3 linked regions of the Homo sapiens genome follow. The protein of the gene in region 1 purifies or fractionates together with the protein of each later gene. This does not show direct contact. Each region holds a gene or a part of one and is shown on either strand. Other genes may lie near its edges.

Region 1 (7,685 bases):
GCCTCCTGCAACCTTTCTCATCTAAATGAGTGGCAATTTGGTCTTCTAGTTGGTCAGGCCAAACACCCAGAAACCATCCTGAGCTTTTTTTTTTTTTTTGAGACAGGTTCTCACTCTGTTGCCCAGGCTGGAGTGAAAGTAGCACAATCATGGCTCACTAAAGCCCTGAACTTTCAACCTCCCGAGGCTCAAGCAATCCTCTGACCTCAGCCTCCCGAGTAGCTGGGACTACAGGATGTGCCACCACACCCAGCTAATTTTTGTATTTTTTATAGAGACGAGGTTTTGCTATGTTGCCCAGACTGGTCTCAAACTCCTGGACTCAAGCAGTCATCCCGCATTGGCCTCCCAAAGTGTAATCCAAAGGGATTACAGGCGTGAGCCACTGTGCCTGGCCCATCCCAAGCTTTTCTCTCTCTCTCATATTTTATATCCAATCTATTGGCAAATCCTGTTGACTCTACCTTCAAAATATATTCAGGATCTGACCATTTCTTAGCCATTGCTACTGCCCTGGTTTAAACCATCATCATCTCTCACCTGAGTCATTGCCATCACCTCCTAACTGGTCTCCTAGCTTCTGACCTTGCCCTCCTGTACTCTTCTCATCATAGCAGCCAGCATGCTCCTCCTAAAGCATGCCAGCGTGTGCCATTCTTTTTTTTTTGAGACAGAGTCTTGCACTTGTTGCCCAGGTCGGAGTGCAATGGCACAATCTCGGCTCATTGCAACCTTCGCCTCCCAGGTTCAAGCGATTCTCCTGCCTCAGCCTCCCTAGTAGCTGGCATTACAGGCGCCCGCCACCACACCCAGCTAATTTTTTTGTATTTTTAGTAGATATGGGGTTTCACCATTTTGGTCAGGCTGGTCTGACCACTCAATTTAAAATTTCATTCTCCAGCCACTCAATTTAAAATTACATTCAGGCTGCCAAGACTTTGTCCTCTATGCCCTGGGGTCTCTGGACCTTCCAGGTAGGAGCCGAGAACCCTTGGTTGGTCCCTCTAACTTGCATTTCTCCCCATCCCTCAAGCAATTCTTATCCCCCTTCCCTGCTTGGGGCTTCACCATGGCATATATTACCATCTGATGTACAGTGTATTTTATTTTATTTATTTTGTTTGTTGTTATCATCTGTTTCTTGCCACTGGACCATAAGCTCTGTGAGGGGGGATTCTTATCTTCTTAGTTCATCATTATGTTCTCAGCACTTGGCATATAGGCACATAATAAATATGAATGAATGAATGGATTCCTAGTACTTCTTGCTTCTCTTTCTATCATAGTCATCATGATTATGATGCAGTACCTAGTGTGTCTCTACCTCTAGAATGAAACAAAGAAAGCTGTGTTTTTGTCTTGCTCACCTTATATACCCAGCACTTAGAAGGTTCTCCAAATTATATCTACTGCATGAATGAAGGTTTCTGAGATGCTAATCTGACCATCTTCACCCGTTTCTGCCCTTAAAGCTTACTGCCCTCAGTATCGAACCTGAATCTTCTTAGCATGTCATAATCACTTTCCCTTTGTCTCATGTCTTGACACTTTTCTCCCCCTTCCACATCCTCTAAGATGCAGCCTTTCCTGAATATGCCATGCTCTTTCACTCCCAGGCCTTTGTACTCACTGTTCTCTTCTTGGAAAGCTCCACCTGACTAACTCCTACTTGTCCTTTAGGGCTCAGCTGAGGTCACATTTTCTGGGAAGCTTTCCAGACCCTTAAGGCGAGCTTGTGTCAGTGGGGGTGGGTACAGAACCCATCTCCAGCTTAGTCCTGCCCAGGCTTCTGCTGACATCTGATTGTTGTGTGTTGGCCAGAGAGGTTGAAGATTAGCTCAGAGAGAATGTTGATGTTGTAGAATGTAGAGTAATGAGAATAGCAGTGGGTGAAATGGAGGTTGAGGCAACTAAAAGCCAGTGTGGGCTCTGGGCTGTCAAGACATTGTCCTCTATGCTCTGAGGTCTCTGGACCTTCCAGGCAGGAGCCAAGAACCCTTGGTTGGTTCCTCTGACTTGCATTTTTCCTCCTTCCTCTCTCTCAGGGGGGGATGTTACCATCACTGACCTGCCCCTGGCCCTAGAACAGATCCAGGGCAACGTCCAGGCCAATGTGCCAGCTGGAGGCCAGGCCCAGGTGCGTGCCTTGTCCTGGGGGATTGACCATCATGTCTTCCCTGCAAACTATGACCTGGTGCTGGGGGCTGATATCGTGTACCTGGAACCCACCTTCCCTCTGCTGCTGGGGACCCTCCAACACCTGTGCAGGCCCCATGGCACCATCTATCTGGCCTCCAAGATGAGAAAGGAGCATGGGACAGAGAGCTTCTTTCAGCACCTCCTGCCCCAGCATTTCCAACTGGAGCTGGCTCAGCGGGATGAGGATGAAAATGTCAACATCTATAGGGCCAGGCACAGGGAACCAAGACCTGCTTGACATCACCCTTGCTGTTCTTCTCAATCTCTTGCTCTAATGAAGGAACTGTGTATCTCAAAAACCATATTTCCAGAGCCACAAACATGAGGACCAAAAAGGATGGATTTCCCTGGCCTCTCTCACTTTCCTCCTTCCCTCTTTGTTACCCCAGATACTCTTGGGCAGGTGCAGTGAGGTGCCTGCTTACAAGGAATCCCAGAGTTCTGGCAGCACTAGTGTTAGAACACCAAGGAGGTTCCTGGCTCCTGTTCTCAGAGAAGGAGGATGGTAAGGTATCCAGGATTTTTAGGGGGTAAGGGAGATATATGGGATGTGAGAGCAGTGATTGTAGACAGACTGTCACTGATCACTTCCATTCCTGTTGCTGTTTACACAGAATGGACTTTAAAAAAATTCTGTGGGATTTTTTTTTCTTTTTTTCTTTTTTTTTGAGACAGGGTCTCACTCTGTCATCCAGGCTGGAGTGCAGTGGTGTGATCACAGCTCACTGCAGCCTCAACCTCTGAAGGCCCAGATGATCTTCCTGCCTCAGCTCCCCAAGTAGCTGGGACTAGAGGCATGCGCCACCACACCCGGCTAATTTTTGTATTTTCAGTAGAGACAGGGTTTCGCCATGTTGCCCAGGGTGGTCTCAAACTCCTGGGCTCAAGTGATCCACCCGCCTTGCCTCCCAAAGTGCTGGGATTGCAGGCATGGCCCACTGTGCTAGCCTAGGATTTTTTTTTTTTTTTAAGAAAGAATTAAGCCTTAAAAATCTATTGTGCAAGAACCCAACTTTTACTCAGGAGCTGAGAAGGAAGAAGCCTCAAACCACCCATTTCCTGCTTTTTAGAGATAGAGTCTAGTGGAACCATGGCTCTAACTGGGTCAAGTCCTCCTAGCTCTGAAGCTAAGGCTGCAGAGCTGTCCTTTGGACTGTATTTCTTCATGCTTTCCAGAGTTAGAGCCTTGATCACGGAACATCATTGTGTGCAGAAGAATACTGTACCTAGTACTAAGTTCTTTTCATCTTTGATTTTTCTTTAGCTTCATCAGTCCTTCCTTCCTAATCTCTAATCCCCTGAAGCCTAACACAGTTCCTAATGTGTTTTGCCTTAACCTCTTTTCTCTTCCCACATTGGTACTTCTGGTTGGGGCTCTCTTTACTTACTGCTTAGGCACATAGTCACCTTCTCTGGACTCCCTGCTTCCATGCTTTCTCCTTCAGTCCATTCCGCAAACTCTTGTGATCTTCCAAAATTAGCTCTGATTAGCTTTCACTTCCTGTAGAAGCAAGAACAAGCTCCTCTGCTTGGTACTTAGTCTGTGTCCATGTGATCCAAAATTACCTTCCTATTGCATTTCCTACTCCTTTGCTACGTGTATTGGACCTCTGGCCAAATTACAAAAGATGTACTCTTTGTTCTCTAAAACCACACTAAAGTTTTCTGACTTCTTTCACACTCTTTATGATAATCCTCTGCCTGAAAGGCTATTGCCACCTGTCAAAATCTTCATTATTCTTTGCCTCTTTCCTGAGCCTCTTGCTTGAATGTGATTTCTTTCTCCCTGAGACCCATAAGGTTCATCTTATGGGACCTTAATTTGTCTTGCATGGACATTTGTGATTCTCATTTTCTCACCATTAAATTACCTTGGAGGGTAGGGCTGTGGTTTACTCCTGTCTAAACCCCTGAAGCCTAACACAGTTCCTGGCACACAACAGGTGTTCAACAGATATTGTGCTCATTCAATAAATATTTACTCGCTTTGTTTAATGGATTCCACCCCTGCCTTCCTAGGTGACCTTGGACAAATTCTCGAACCCATTCACCAACCACACAAGTTTGTTGTGAGTCATAAATGGATAATGAATATAAATGCGCATTGAAAATAAACATAAAATGTTACCCACATTTCTTGTGTTGTTGTTTTGTGACGACTTTATTTCTTGGTTTCTGTTATTTTACCTGGGGTGGGAGGTGGGGGGTAATTCCCGTATGAAATGTGTCGTCTCAAGAAATCAAGTAGAGGCGAGGACTGTGTTCCTCCGGCCAGCAGGTGGCACCATACTCGTTTGGTGCGTTCCGCTGGAGAATTCTGGCCCTTCCGCCGCGCCGTAGGTTTGTTGCCTCACCAGTGCGCCCGCCGGAGGGTGTTTATCGCGGCTAGAGAGATGTCGCTGCTGCGGTCGCTGCGCGTGTTTCTGGTCGCGCGGACCGGGAGCTACCCGGTGAGAAGTCCTGGTGCTGGTACCGACCTGCTGTCCCTGCAGCTCTCCTGTGCGCCTGTACCTTTCCCTTCCTCCCAACCTCGTTTGACTCCATCTCACCTTCCCCGACAGCATTGCCTCTGCCCAGTCCAGCCCCGGTGCACCCCCCTTTGCACACTGTCCGCTCCCTAAGGTCGCTTCCCTGCCCGTGTACCCTTCACCCTCTGGAGTTTGCTGCTTCCTGCTCCTCATCCCTTTCTTATCTCATCTAGGCTGGGTCTCTTCTGCGTCAGTCGCCCCAGCCAAGGCACACATTTTATGCTGGGCCCCGTCTGTCTGCCTCGGCCTCCAGCAAGGAGCTCCTCATGAAGCTGCGGCGGAAAACAGGCTACTCCTTTGTAAATTGCAAGAAAGCTCTGGAGACTTGTGGCGGGGACCTCAAACAGGTGTGTGTGTGGAGGGGTGCAGGGCGGAGTACTAGAGCTCGACCTCAGACTCTTGGGGCGGTCACGCTGGGGAGCATAAAGTTAGACTGCTCTTCAGTGACCATAATGGCACAGTCCTAAGTGGAAATCTGGCTTAAATGACAACCTTGGCCTTGACTTTGTCTTATTTGAAAGCAGTTGAGTATCCCAGGATTAACAAACCAGACTGTTACGGTGTTTCTTGTTGCCTGGAGCTGAAAGGGTTTGTGTGAGCTTTGGAGTCAGATTGTTCAGGAGTCAAATTGTGGGGCCCCCACACTGTCTGACTTTAGACTTTTTTTTTTTTTTTCAGACGGAGTCTTGCTCTGTGGCCCAGGCCGGCGTGCAATGGCACGATGTTGGCTCACTGCAACCTCCGCCTCCCGGGTTCAAGCGATTCTCCTGCCTCAGCCTCCTGAGTAGTTGGGATTACAGGCGTGCGCCACGACACCCGGCTATTTTATTTTTTATTTTTTATTTTTTTTTGTATTTTTAGTAGAGATGGGGTTTCGCCGTGTCGGCCAGGCTGGTCTCGAACTCCTGGCCTCAGGTGATCCGCCCGCCTCGGCTTCCCAGAGTGGTGGGATTACAGGAGTGAGCCACCGCGCCCGGCTGACTTTAGACATCTTAATCTTTCAGAGTTGTGTAGTTTTTGCCTGTACGGTCATGCGTCTCTTAATAGGAAGATACATTCTGAGAAATGGCGTCGTTAGGAGATTTTGGCTTATGCACATCATAGAGTACCTACACAAACCTAGATGGTATATTGTACTACAACCTGGGCTATATGGAATTGCCAGCTGCTCCTAGGCTACAAACCGTTACAAAATGTTACTGGACTGAATACTGTAGGCAGTTGTAACACAGTGGTAAGTATTGTGTATCTAAACATAGAAAAAGTACAGTAAATAGGCATAAAAGATAAAAAACGATACATCTCCATAGGGAACTTATCATGTATGGAGCTTGCAGGACTGGAAGTTGCTCTGGGTGAGTCAGTGAGTGGTGAGTGAATATGAAGGCCTGCCTTAGGACACTATGGTGCACTATAGTAGACGTTAAAGCACAGTACACATAAGCTACATTACATTTATAAGAAATTTTTTTCTGTGATAATAAGTTAACCTTAGTTTAATGTAACATTTTTATTTTATAAACTTTTAACATGTTTTAAATTTTTGGACTCTTTTGTAATAACAGCATAAAACACATATTGTACAGCTGTACCAAAATATTTTTCTTTATGCACTTTTTCTGTGAGCTTTTTTCTGTTTTTAAAATTTTAAACTTTTTTTGGCTGGGCGTGGTGGCTCATGCCTGTAATCTCAGAACTTTGGGAGGCTGAGGCAAGCGGATCACCTGAGGTTGCGAGTTCGAGACTAGCCTGACCCACACGGAGAAACCTCGTCTCTACTAAAAAAAAATAAAATTAGCCTGGTGTGGTGGCAAGGGCCTGTAATCCCAGCTACTCGGGAGGCTGAGGTAGGATAATCTCTTGAACCCAAAAGGCGGAGGTTGTGGTGAGCCGAGATCGTGCCATTGCACTCCAGCCTGGGCAATAAGAGTGAAACTCTGTCTCAAAAAAAAAAACAACAACTTTTTTTATTGAAATATCTTTTTTTTTTTTTTTTTTTTTTTTTTTTGAGACAGAGTCTTACTCTGTCCCCCAGGCTGGACTGCAGTGGCACAATCTTGGCTCACTGCAAGCTCCACCTCCCAGGTTCACACCATTCTCCTGCCTCAGCCTCCTGAGTAGCTGGGACTACAGGCGCCCGCCACCACGCCCGGCTAATTTTTTGTATTTTTAGTAGAGACAGGGTTTCACCGTGTTAGCCAGGATGGTCTCGATCTCCTGACCTTGTGATCCGCCCACCTCAGCCTCCCAAAGTGTCGGGATTACAGGCGTGAGCCACAGCGCCTGGCCAAAACTTTTTTTAAGTTAAAAAATTGTTTTGTTAAAAACGGAGACACAAACACATACATTAGCCTAGGCCTACACAGGAGTGGCATCATCATTAACACTGTGTTCCACTTTCACATCTTGTCCTGCTGGAAGGTCTTCAGGGGCAGTAACGGGCATGGACCTGTCATCTCCTATGATAACAATGTTTTTTTCTGGAATACCTCTTGAAGGACCTGCCTGAAGCTGTTTTACTGTTAAATTTTTTTATTTTTTATTTTTTTGAGACGGAGTCTCACTTTGTCACCCAGGCTGGAGTGCAGTGGCGCGATAGATCTTGGTTCACTGCAACCTCCGCCTCCCGGGTTCAAGAAATTCAGCCACCCGAGTAGTTTATAAGTTGGAGTACACTCTAAAATAACAATAAAGCATATGTATTATAGTAAATACATAAGCCAGTAACATAGTTGTTCATTATTGTTTCAAGTATCATGTACTATATGTAATTGTATGTGCTATACTTTAATAGGACTGGCAGCACAGACGTTTTCTTTACACTAGCATTGCCACAAACATGTAGGTAATATGTTGCCCTACAATGTTAGGAGGACTACCGTGTCACTAGACAATAGGAATTTTTCAGCTCCATTATAATCTTAGGGACCGTCATCATATATGCAGTCCGTCATTGTC
Region 2 (6,406 bases), on another chromosome or scaffold:
AAAGTTAAAAATTGCTAAGATTGACCATAAAAATATGTAAATAAGACAACTAAAAATAAATTTACATGCAAGGTGTGTAGGAACACTTAAATGTGTTTGTGGTAAAAGATTATAAAAAGGCATAAAAATGTAAATGTTGCCTATGGAAAAAGGATTCTTTTGAAACCTATGTAAGGGTAAAATTTGGCTTTCCTTCCCTTGTACAGATTTTTCATGTAATAGAGAAGAATAATGAAATATTTGGTTTGCCTTGTTGGTAGAATGCCAAGGAGAGAAAAGAGTAGACAGGAGACAAACTGTTTGGAAAGCTAAGTCTTACCTCTTAATGAGTAAAGATTGTTGCCTAGTTTTAAAATTTTTGAGTCATCCTTTTGCCAAAATAAATAACTTATGTGTAACCTGGAATTGTATTTCATACTATCAAGTGTCTTAAACCTCTTTTTACTAATTAGAGCTTTTATTTAAAATTAATGATATGTAACTATTACTGTATATGTAAGAAAAGAAACACACTTAGCTATTGCTTTGCGGATTTGCATTTAATTTTAAATTTTACAATTTAGATTCAGCATGAATTGCAATAAATGGATCTTCAGCAGAGTTACTAATAGAAAAATGAGCTTTGCCATCATCAGAAACGTAGATTTTAATGCCTGTGCAGTTGCCATTAATTTTATCTCCAGAAATGACATCACAGTATGTGCCAGCAGGAAGACCAGTTTGCAAAGTTAAAGAAAATGTCCTGTAAAATAAAATTTCAGATTTAACTTCAAAACAATGAAATCAAGAATACAGACTAACACAAATAAACAGCATAACTTTATGTTTTAGAACCCTAAGCAGTGAAGTCTCATTAAGAAGAAAACCCATATGCCTCCCTAGTAGGTGTAAACAGCTTTCTAGGACCAAAAGTAACCTTACAGAAAACCTACCAATTTCCTTTTCAGTAGTGAAAATATAACCGAAAAATCAAAGTTGAAGAATATCACCGAAGATTGGCGGGAGCGGTCACATTTTGATAAAGTGCTACCTTGGTAAAATCAAATTTTTTCTCAACTGAACTTAATGCCAATTACTTTAAAAATTTAAAGGGTATTATTTTTTTAACCTTCTTTTATTCTACATGAGGTCAAAAAGAATTTAGGGTGTACATAAAAACAATCTAGCATTTGTATGAGGAAGTGATAGTTTGAAATATAAAGCTTTTTCACAAAAGATTTTTTTGGTATTTTCATCCACAAAAGAAGGAAACTAAGGAAATAGACACGCATTTTTTTGGCAGGAAAGAGATCAACTTGACTTATATATTTTTGTATTTATTTATTTTTCATAAGTGAAGTATAATTTATACTAGAGTGAGCTAAGTATGAGTGTCAGTTGGCCTTGGACAGAGACAATTCAACTGTTTGCAAGGAGGTCTTCTCAGCTACAGTTTCGGGAATCATTTATACTACAGCCAAAGGATACAAAAATCACAGATGAAAGGCCAATAATGAGAAGTTTCAGAACTAAAACTCAAGTCTCCTGAAGCAAATCATTAACCACAAGATACATATTATTTATCCATATGCTTTAAAAATGTTATTTGTCACAAGGAGACAGAGAAGTGAAGAAAGTATACCAAAAAACTAGGTAGAGCTGTCATTGAGAAAAAGAGAAATAAAGATATTTTAGTACTGAGGCAGCATTTTTCCATGATTAAAAGAGCAGGACTATAAGAAACGTTCTTTTAATGATTTCACAATCCTTCTATTAATTACTTTGTGTATTTTGTGGCATGTGTAGGTAAGCATATGAATGTGCATTCTATATATGCATAAGATATTGCAAGGGTGCACAGAAAGGATTCTGCTTACAACAGAAAGCCCTTATGAAAACAGGAGAACGAAGGAGTAACAGCCATCATCCTTTTGCTTCTACCCAATTTTGATCTCTATTGTCTTCTCGCTCCACTGACTACATGATTTTTCAGATATGATAAATGTCAATGAACAGAAAAAAAAAAGAATAAACCAAGAACATACTGGTACAAAATATTATTTTTAATTGATATTTACTTACCAGTCATCATTGTTGAAAACAATGAATCCTCTGTTTCCTCTCCCAAAAGCCACTTGGTTGCTCCCATTATCATACCAGTTTGTAAAAGGCTGGCCATCCACTACATTGCGGAAATTAACCATGTTCCTAAAAACACAATACCATATAAAACGTTGATATTCTTAAACTTCAACTGTTTTAAATAAAGTGCTACGGAAATTTACTATTAGAGGACATGTCTAAATACATATTCTCACCTTATTTGGCGCCATCGATGTTCACAGACCCAGTCATTGCCACAAGTAGTGTCTGGATTAATAGTAACTTCTTTAGTTACTCCATTATCATTTGGTGGCCCAACCCAATCATTAACATCCTTAATTACAGGAGGAAAAGCCAAATTTTAGCATATATATATTTATCTCTTCCTTCTCCTTTAAACCAAACCCAACCTATCCTGTTACTTGTGTCTCTGCATTCAGTGACTTTATCTAGAATCCAATGCCTTCATTGATTTTTATAGCCCTTTACTGGGTCTTCATCATCTCTCTATCCTCTGGTTCTCTTTTGCCATATTTCAAACAAAGGTAGCAAATTGTTATCCTCTCCTTTTCATTCCAAGGCACTGCAAAGACTTCTTTGCTCTGTCACCCAGGCTGGAGTACAGTGGCATGATCGTAGCTCACTGCAGCCTTGATCTCCGAGGCTCAAGCGAACCTCCCATCTCAGCCTCCCAAGTAGCTAAGACTGTTGGTGTGCACCACCGCACCCAGCTAATTTTTTTTTTTTTTTTAATTTTCAGTAGAGGCAAGGTCTTGCTAGCTTGCCCAGATAGGTCTTGAACTCCTCAGGTCAGCTGACCTTCTCAGCTGGCCGCACACAGTGCTGGGATTATAGGTGTGAGCCACTGCACCTGGCCTGCAAGGGCTTCTTAACATCACTGTAAGCCATGCAATGGCATTGAAATGGGAAGGGCATTAGTACTAGAAACACCAGGATTAAAACATAGGCTCTATTACTAGTAGCTGAGAAAATTTAATCAATATAAATAATTTCTCTGTGTCTCAGTTTCCTCATTTGTAAAATGAGAATAATGAGTTCTTTTGCTATAAAAATTAAGTAATATATGTGAAAATGCCTTGAACATGACATATGCTAAATAAATATTGGAGGCCGTCATGCTTCTTTTTAGATAAATGTACAAAATACTACATCTGAACATTTTTTTTTATAAATTGACCATATTTTTAGTATTATGCTTTTCTGATTGGCACTTTAAGAAATCTTCATTAAAAAACACAGAGTAACCCTAGGAAGTTTATCAGTGTTCACCTTAAAATCACGTCATATGGTGAAAAGTGAACAAAACTTAAGAGTTTATAGCATGCAGCAGTCCTGTCAAAGTGGGAATGTTATAGTAATAGAAAAAATAAAAGAACTCTCTGACTCCTAACAACAGAAATAAGACCAATTAGTAGAAATTATAAGAAGTTGTCTCAATATAAAAGTACACCTTCTAAATATTAAAGCTGTTTAACAATAGAATCAGTTGTTATACATAGTAGCGGACTTCTCAAACTGAAAGGAATCTAAAAAAAGCTAGCTAGATATCTGTGTGACTCATAGGAAGGAGGAATTTCTGCTTTAGTTCTGAAGTCTCTGATGCTGTTTCTCAACCCTTTAGTTTAAAAGAAAACCTTCTACTAGCTTTCCAAATATCTTTACACTCTTATTTCTCTGTTCCTTTTTGAAACTACTCAGCAGAGTGATGTCTTTACCATACTCCCAAATATTTTTCTCATTCTTACCTTTCTTGGAATACTCTCTATAAATTTCTATCCTTTAGTACATACAATTTCCTTCCTCTTATAGTATACTTTCCCTATTTAACTCAGCTGAACTGGATCATTTGTTTCTATACCATATAACTTTTTAACAGTATTTAAAAGACATTTATATTGTTCTCACTACGGGCAGATGATGTTTTAAGTTCTCTACAAGGGTTGGCATCTATATTCTTCCAATTAAACCTGAGGAAGGTACGAAGTATATATTTTAATCCCTGTGCCTAGCTCTTATTTTTAAGTGGTTTTTTTAATTTTTATTTTTATTTTCCCTGCGGGCTAGGGGGATGTTTGTCATATCTCTGAAAAAGCTTGCTATTCTTTTTCAATGGAGAATATAAAGTTTATTCCTTTAATATAACCTGCATTACTAAATCACAACCCTGTATCAGGTTTACAATAATTAAATATTTGTTGAATAAATAAACACTTAATAGTTGTCATATTAAATTAGGAGAAGATTGCCTCTTTTTTCTTGAGAAAAGGATATTTTGAACAACTCCAAAACTTACTTTTCCATTTTCAAAATATCTTGGCCAACGGTAGCTTGACATTACTCGTGTAAATCCATAAGGATGAGCAAGCATAAATCCAACTGCCATTTTGTACAGCCTGAAAGTTACATAATTATATTATCATAGAATATCACAATATTCATACCATCATTAAAAGAGGTGTTAAAAAATAGAGAACTTGGTTTTCTACCTAGCATCCCAGAAGGTAAGTATAGAGGCTCCTCCAGCGCCATGTCCTCGTTGATTGTCATGGTTATCCACAAAGACAAGCGCTCTGTCAGAAGGCATGAAACCCCAACCTTCTCCCCAGTTCCTATTTTTGAAACATAAGATATACGTTGATGTATCATTTCACAATAGTTTGAGAGTAACTCTACTGTGCATCTCTTTCTGTAAGGCATGGCATCTGAAGATTAAATTCTTTCTCTAATTAGATGGTTACTCTGTAAGATATATATATATACACACACACACACAAACACACACTCACATATATATACACACACACCTCATAAACAAACACACGTGTGTAATCTACATATATATAGTCCATATTTGTATATACATGTATGGAATACTTATATTCATATTACAAATATAAAATGTTTGTTATTAAAAAATTTCCTTTCAGAGGTTTCAGCACATTATCATTTAGAGGCACTCCAGAAGGATCAATATCCACATCACATTATACAGAATGTCAAACTAGATTAAAATAAGGCTTTAATATTGTATTGTTATAATATAAATCATTTTACATTTCCAATTCGTATAAGTAAATACAATAGCATGGACACTTTGTACATACTTTATAAATGATAGGATCATTTTAATAATAACCTGGCTTTAAAAGATTATATGCAAACATCAGTCAAATCCAGTATATTCATCTTGTACGCAGACAGAAACTCCTAGGGTAAGTTTAGCGTTCCTAGGCATACTGTCTTGTGACAGACACTCTAAATACAAAAGATGATTGATTAGAGTTTAGGGCACTAGAATACTTATCATTAACAACTGACTCCTTAATAGTTGTCTGAATAAGAATGTTCCAGAAGATAACTCGCACTGGGGTAGTATGACTAACAGATCTATGAAATAGTTCAGGGGAAAAGTTGTATTTATTTACTTTAAGTAAGACATCTTCTCTCCATTCCACTTGCGAATAACTGTGCCGAGTTTTGCACCATACTTGAATTCTGTCACCCGGCCATTACCAAAGTAGTCACTGCTTTTAATTGGCTCACCACCCAGATCAATTACCTAGAAGAAATTTAGGAAAAAAAAACATTTTGCATAAGGACTTTAAAGCATTTTAACCGATAAGTTTATATTATATAAAAATTAGCTTTCAGCTATTTCTGAGTTATTTTAGACTTGTTGTGCTTTGTTCTTTAGAGACAGGGTCTTGCTATATCGTCCAGGATGGTCCCAAACTCCAGGCCTCAAGGAATTCTCCTGCCTCAGCCTCCCAAAGTGCTGAGTTACATGCAAGAGCCACCACGCCTGGTCCTATTTGTTATATGAAACGCTCAAAATCGTTTTCTTATTCTTATTATCTTCATCGGTAATATTCTTATATTCTTTTTTTGATAAAGTATACACTACAATATTGAAAGAAACATAATGTCAAAGTTACCTGTTGTCCTGTGAGAATACTTACCTAATTTTTAGTCTTGTACATCAATGATAATAATAACAGCTCACAGGAATACGATATTTACTATCTGACTGACTTTTTTTGATAAATATTAACTCATTTCATTTTCCAAAGAAAATAAAGACATAACTATTATCAGTATCCTACATTCTGTGTACCTCCATAAAACCTGTTGTGATAAAGAATTAGATATGCTGTATGTGAAGAAGAGGAGGTTAAAGAACACTGTTTTAAGGAAATGACTCAGTCTTTATCCTACAGAAATTGCATTTTTAATTGAATCTGCCGTGAATTTTCTAATGAATAGGATGATATTTTATATGCCTATATGTATTGACGTACCTCCT
Region 3 (6,441 bases), on another chromosome or scaffold:
CTCAAGCTCCCTAAGTGGCTGAGAAAATGAGGCTGCAGGAACAGCTGAAGAAAAGCAGGCAATAATTCAGGGAGGGATGGATGCCTAGGGTTGCTGAAGGACCAGAAAAGGGTCACAAGCCAATTCCCAGACCCTCGGGGCAAGGATCCTAGAAAGAGCCAGAAGTGCAGCTCCCCCTCTCGAGTTTCTCTTCCCAATGGGACCATAGTCGTCTCTGGTGTCAAGACTCAGGAAGCCTTACTCATTCAGAGCCACACGCCTCATCATCCTGTCTGGAAAGACTACCCCAGTGACACAAACATTTTTCACACTATTGAAAATGACAAGATGACAATAATAATAATAATGAGCATAAGAGACTTTTGCAGGCAAGCTATGGGAGCTGGAGTCTGGCTGCCTATCATCTCAGCCTCCCAGGGTAGGGCTGGGGACAGTAAGGACACTCATTTTGTTATTTTTTTTCCTTCCTTTTCTATGTTTCTGTTTTTATATTTTCATAGCAGCAACAGAACAGGGAGACAGTCTTGAGGTATTTTAAAGAGCTTTTTTTCTTAAAAAAAAATAATATAAAGTTATAAAAAGCGGCAGCAGCCTGGGGCCCGGATCTGGAGGGGAGGAGGTGCTGGCGGCTCCGTTGCAGTGGGCAGGCACTTTCTCGTTAATGGGCTTTTGACTGCAGGAAGACAAGAGGCGAGAGAAAGGGTCAGGGTGGGGGCCTACCAGCTGTCCTACCCAGTGAACTGTGTGCACTACAGAGGCTAAAGCTTGATTTCCTTCTGCTGGCCTGGTGAGTAAAACTGAGCAAGGGGGAAGATGAATGCCAGCTCACCAGGGGCAGCCTGGGTAGTGAAGCTGGAGAACACACAGGGTTTATGATTAGGCCCACATCTAACCCAGGAGAGCACCCCCGTCCCACCTCCAGTAAGTCCCTCCTGGCAGAGATCATATGGAGAGCACATAGCACACTACACCAGGGCTCCCACCAGAAGAGGCAAATAAAACTGGCTGCAGGCTTTACTGGAAACCCTGGAGAACTTGCCTGTCACCTGCACACCTGGAGGTGGGCACATGTGCATAAGTGGACATGGGGTTGTGTGCCTGCCCTTCAAGGCCCTGATGCCCAGAGGAAAAACCAGTGAGACCAGCCCACCCACCTTGCTGCTCGGCATGTTAGGCTGTGACCCAGGGACTCAAACTCCCTTTCCTTCAGGGAACAGAGGTAGCTCCAGTACCTGGAATGAGGGTCACAGCCAATTCAGAAAGAAGTAGCCCTTTGATTATAGCAAAAGCAGGGGTGGAGGGGTGCCGCATCTCCTCAGCCCAAGGGAAAGGGTTAGGGATAGGGGAAGGTTCACCAGGCAAAAAGCTGGAGTCACTTTGCTAAGAACTGACCTACCTCTTCCTAAAGAAAACAGTCCAGGAACTCTCTCAACTTCCCCTTCCTCCCTTTCCCTGCACAAACACCAATGTAGCATCTTCTCTGTATCAGGTACCCCCTGTGTGCCCCACCCTCATCAATCTTCAGGGAGCCTGGCTGGTACCTTCAGTGTAGAGCACTTCTCCTCAAAGGCCAGGGCCGGGCCTGGCTTCTTGCGGCGCACAGAGCAGGCCACATCAGCAGGGGCACCAGCCTGACAGTGCTTGGCCTTCACTGGCCGGCAATAAGTGGCCAGGTTTTTCCGCTTCTTGGCCACCTCCTCCTCAGAGAGGCAGTTGGTTGGCAGGGCCTTGGCTGGGTGTCCAGCTGCTCCCCGGTTCTCCAGCTGAGAAGCCTTGACTGGTGTGGGGAGCTGATGAGGGGAGCCACGACAGTCCAGGGGCCCTGCCCGCTTCACTCTTGGCCCCATTGTCCCATTAAGCCCCATGCTCAGGGCTGTTTTAGTTTTGGCCGAGAGGCCCCTACAGCCAGAGGGTTTCCCTTTTCCAGTGGGCTCCAGGATGCAGGTCCGTTTAAGAGTGGTAGGGCCAGGGGATAACTTCCGCTTTCGAGAAGGGGCCTCCACCTCCACCCCGTCCTTGCCTTTGGATGACTTGCTGGCCTTGGAAGGCGGCAGCTTGCTGAAGGACGGGGATGGCGTGTTGGCAGGCAGTGGTGAGGTGATAGCCTGGCTCCCGCCCATGCACTCTGCCTGGCTACAGGCAGCCGCCACGCTGGGGGAGCCTGCAGGGTAGCTGGGGACAAGGTTGTCCTTGGTGGGGGGCATGGAGGCTGGGCAGGCAGGTCTCAGGGTTGGACCTGGAAGGCGGGGGCAGGTGCCTGTAGAGGATGGGCTCAGGGGAGCAGATAACGGGGAGTTGACAAGGTGAGCTGGAGGTTCAGCTGCCGGTGGGATCTTCCTGCAGCAAAAAGAAAGCCCCACTGTGACTGCCAAGAAACAAGACAGCTTCCCCCAACACAAGACACACTCCAGTCTCTCTGCCCCACCTAGAAATGGTCAGCAGAGCCCCAGAGTTGCTGCCATCTGCTGGGAGATGCTGGAACTGAGGGTTAGGAAGAAGACACAGGGGTGCCTGTGGAGAGGAATTAGCTAGTACCTACTAACTAGGAGGCAGCCCACTAGGAACTTCATTTTAAATCTTGGTTTGGGCATCCCCTATCCCTAGTTACCCAAAAGGTACTGGAAGTGATGGATGAAAGTCTAGATTCACCCCCAGACCACCCTTCCATGCCCTGCCTTAGCCAAACTCTAGGCTGCCAAGTTTTCCCACCTCCTTTTCATGCTACTCCCTATCTGGGGTCCTGCTGGCAAATAGCCAAGGCACACCTATGGGTATACAGGAAAGATCAGGGCTTCTGAAGCCCAAGTATGTCTGGAACCTAGGAATTTCCATTCTAGAACTTCCATTCTGGGTCCGAGAGACTTACTTCCACATGTGTGTGCTGAGGTGCCGTTCCAGCATGGAGCTGAGTGCTGAGCAGAACCGGTCCAGCCGGCGGCTAAACACATAGCATCCTGGGCTCACCAGCCGGCTCCCAAAGGTGCAGAACTAAAGGCAGAAGGAAGGTGCATGGTTGGCAGGGTCTGGGGTGCACAGACAGCATCTGCACACAGGATCTGGCCTCCTCCCCATGTTGTTGGCCAGGAGTGCTGGGCCACCCCCTCCATAGGCCCCTATTCCAGGTCCTTACCGCCTGTGGCCGTGGGGGCCGGGTTGCATAATGGCAGTCAGGGGGTGGGTGGAGGTCGTCAGATGTCCCCTCCTCCTCACTCTCTTCGCTGGAGGCCTGGGTCCCACCCCGGGGCATGGGGAAGGGGAACAGGCCTGGGTCCCCATCACCACCACAGGGGCCTTCATCATCCAATTCACTCTCGGAGGAGGCCCGGGACCTGGAAGGGCCAAAAGGGATGCCAGGGGAATGTGACTGTTGTGGGGTCAGAGTAGGGGCATCCTTGAACCTGCCGAGCTCAAAGAGCAGGGCACCAGGGCAGACACCCTGCAGGGCAATCAGAAGAGGACAGAGGGAAGGGAAGGACAGGAGGGAACGACACAGCTCACAGAGTAAGAGACAGAGAGACTGCTCCCAAGGGATTCTCTCCCCAGCCCCTTCACCTCCCAGCCCCTTCCTCCTCAGGGGATAATCTGCTGCAGATCCGCCTCCTCCAGAAAATCTTCACAGTTAAAACTGTACCCAGCTCTGGTCAGCCCAGTCAACTCGCTCAACCCCCTTCTTGCATCACATATTCCTGTGAGCCTGTCTGTGAGCTGAGCCTGTGTTTCGTGTCTGCCCCTTGTGTGACAGGCAGAGATGCATGTGTGTCTCCTTCAGCAAGTCAGGCTCTCCCTGGGGTCCGGCATAGCCTCTGCACGCGAAGGGGCCAGTGAGTGAATACACATAGGGCTGCCTTGCCCAGGAGTGTGACCCTTTCAGCTCCCCAGTGACAAGTTTCGGTCTGTTGGAGGCAGCTGGGAAAATGTTCATATCCTGAGTGTTGGATCTGGCACACTGCCGAGAGGCTGGGGTGCTGTGGTATGCCTGGTTGGAAACAGGGGAGTCTCCTGCTTCCACACCACTGTCAGGAGCCCCAGGAATACCCCCACACTCAGGGCTGAGGGAGTGCCTCTTCCAGGACACTCCCTGAGCCTGTTTCCAGGGGCCCCTGATGGCTTAGGGGCCAAGTACCCCCAGGTGAGGTAGGGGTTGGATTCTAGACGTACCTGGGCAGTGCACAGTATGGGTAGGTCTGCTTGGCACGAACAGAGAAGGTGCTGCTGGGAGCAGCCACCGCTGCTACAACCTGGACTGAGGAGGGGAGCTCCTGGGAGGGGCGCTCGAGAACTTGCTCCTTGCGCCCTGGGCTCTTCTCCTTGGGAGACTCCCCTTTGCGGGAGTTGGCCTTCAGCTCTGCCACCAGCACGTCAAAGTCCTTGGCCCGGCCCTGGACTTCCCGGCGCTGGTGTACTGAGTGGATCTAGAATACAGCAGAGTGGAGAGCTGGGGAGTAGGTATGAACTGAGAAGGGGTGAGGGACGGCAGGGTGCTTTGGCCCGGGCAAGTTGGGGGGCAGGGAGAGAGGTGGGCATATTTGCAGCTGTGTTCATGTGTCTTTGTTTCATTCCCCCATGGGGCCAAAACCCTCCTTTGGGATGGGGGAATCTGGAAACTCCCTCCTTCCCACTGTTCCCACCTTCTGCCCAGGAGGGGCATACCCATCTCCCCTTCCCTTGGGTGGGCCTAACTGCCCTCCCTTAAGCTGGACCTTCAGTAACATCGACATTCCTCTCTTTGCCCAGGGAAGGAGTGGGCAAGCCCTGTGCTGTCCTCCCTCACCGTGCAGTGGGAAGGGGGTTACCTTGCAGGTCAACAGGCGGGTACAGATCTTTTTGGTCTCTGGATTTATTACCCCACACTGCCTGTTGAGGTCGCACTCCTTCCCTGTGGGGAAAGCACTTCCAATGAACCTCAAGACCATTTCCAGGAGTTTACAGGAGGATTTGGCCGCTTCCTGCCAAGGGCCTGAGAACTGGTACTAAGGCAGAAGAGACTCCAGCCCTCAGCCTGGGGCTGTACCTTCCAGATAAACTTCTGGGCATCAACATCTCCTTGCTGGGTGTGAGAACCATCCCTATCCCAATTTCAGGTGCGCCTTTTGGGACTTCAAGCCCAAAGCAGGGCAACACACATCAAGAAACAAAAGCAGCCATGGGCATCTGGGAGGCCAGAGAAGCCAGCTGTGAGATGTGTCTGGCTGGCGCCCTGGATCTAGGTGAGAAAAGAGTGAGAAAGAACTTCACCTCCTGGGCATGGGCTCCCTCAGCCTTGATCAGGAGACACAGGATGGAGAGAAGCTTCCCAGGAAGCAAGCAGGTCAAGAGGTGACGGGGCTCCTATACCCTACAACCTGTGATGGCCAGGCCCATAAACCTGACCTCCTCCTCATCCAGCCCAAGGACAAAGCAGCCCAAAGGAGTCCCCACTCTACATTCTGGACCCCCAAGACCACAACTACTCACGAGCCATCTTCCGGTGGGTTTTAGGGGGCAGCCTGGTCCCACTGGGCTCCTTTTCAGGAGGGCTGCCTTCAGCCCAGTGACTGGACCCCTCACTGGGGATGATCTCGATGTTCTCTCTGCCAGGAGGTTCTTTAGAAGGGGGAGCCATGGGAGGTTTTCCAGGGGAGTCCTTGGTGAGGCCCCCTGGCTGGCTGAGAAAAGCAGAGGGTGGGGCCACCCTGATTCCATGTCCATCAGGCTTCGGGAGACTGGACATCTTCTCCAGATTCACCACAGGCACGAAAAGGCTACACACAGAGAGAGGGGGTTGGCTGAGGGAGGGGAGGGGAGGCGAGGCCTGGGGCCTGGACTCTAGCCCAGAGCCATCTCTTTCCCAGCCCTGGAATTTGGGTGGGCTCCAGCAGGGGTGTGAAACACGGGAAGAGGAGACCCCATCTTCCCTGGAATATATGGAAGGAAGCTGCAGACAGGACGGCTGCCTCCTGCTGTGAGGAGTATGCCTTGACCCAGGGCTGTCTGTATTGATGTCAGCCCATCCATGGGTCAGGGTCAGGGCCAGTCTTAGAAAGTTTCCAGCCTCTCCTTACCAGAGGTTGTCCTTCTGGGTCTTCTCAGGAGGCTGGTGGCCACGGCTCCGGGACCCCTGGCCCTTCTCCCTGGAGGAGGTTTTCGTGGAACCTGGGGCCCTACAAGCTGGGCCCTGCCCATTCACTACATGGCATTTCTGAGAGCTGGCAGGGGCTGGAGGTGGGGGTGGGGCCCGGCCATAAAGCTTGCTGAGGGGCCCATGTCTTCTTTCTGTCACCAGGAGGTGGAAAGAATAATCAAGGTGAGTGGTATCACCACTTCCTTCCCCAACCTAACCATGTCCATAGACTCACATGAGAGAATCTGAGTTTCCATAAATTAGATTGTAAACATGCCTCCTTCCCATTTGAATCTGAGCCTTTAGGACTCAAAATTCAAGACCCAGCTTCCTGAATGTCT

What was found.
Region 2: the proteins of TSFM (region 1) and AMY1C purify together in Homo sapiens (affinity purification with mass spectrometry, with the first as the bait; 2 studies listed by BioGRID). This does not show direct contact.
Region 3: the proteins of TSFM (region 1) and ATXN7L2 purify together in Homo sapiens (affinity purification with mass spectrometry; 2 studies listed by BioGRID and IntAct, with this or other methods). This does not show direct contact.

Annotation. Positions count from the first base shown.
Region 1 is NC_000012.12:57,778,210-57,785,894, forward strand, and holds the start of TSFM (elongation factor Ts, mitochondrial isoform 2 precursor), read left to right. Parts: upstream 1-4,577; 5' UTR 4,578-4,592; coding exon 4,593-4,649; intron 4,650-4,900; coding exon 4,901-5,074; intron 5,075-7,685. Other genes in the region: EEF1AKMT3 (EEF1A lysine methyltransferase 3), read left to right, coding at 2,046-2,437. UniProt on the Homo sapiens protein: Associates with the EF-Tu.GDP complex and induces the exchange of GDP to GTP. It remains bound to the aminoacyl-tRNA.EF-Tu.GTP complex up to the GTP hydrolysis stage on the ribosome.
Region 2 is NC_000001.11:103,752,805-103,759,210, reverse strand, and holds the end of AMY1C (alpha-amylase 1C precursor), read right to left. Parts: coding exon 6,402-6,406; intron 5,663-6,401; coding exon 5,529-5,662; intron 4,713-5,528; coding exon 4,590-4,712; intron 4,497-4,589; coding exon 4,397-4,496; intron 2,417-4,396; coding exon 2,298-2,416; intron 2,188-2,297; coding exon 2,062-2,187; intron 743-2,061; coding exon 553-742; 3' UTR 519-552; downstream 1-518. UniProt on the Homo sapiens protein: Calcium-binding enzyme that initiates starch digestion in the oral cavity.
Region 3 is NC_000001.11:109,486,818-109,493,258, reverse strand, and holds the end of ATXN7L2 (ataxin-7-like protein 2), read right to left. Parts: intron 6,253-6,441; coding exon 6,042-6,252; intron 5,742-6,041; coding exon 5,455-5,741; intron 4,877-5,454; coding exon 4,794-4,876; intron 4,413-4,793; coding exon 4,159-4,412; intron 3,977-4,158; coding exon of another isoform or gene 3,919-3,976; exon of another isoform or gene 3,330-3,918; coding exon 3,131-3,329; intron 2,989-3,130; coding exon 2,867-2,988; intron 2,338-2,866; coding exon 1,542-2,337; intron 1,233-1,541; coding exon of another isoform or gene 1,191-1,232; exon of another isoform or gene 1,155-1,190; intron 674-1,154; coding exon 659-673; 3' UTR 525-658; downstream 1-524.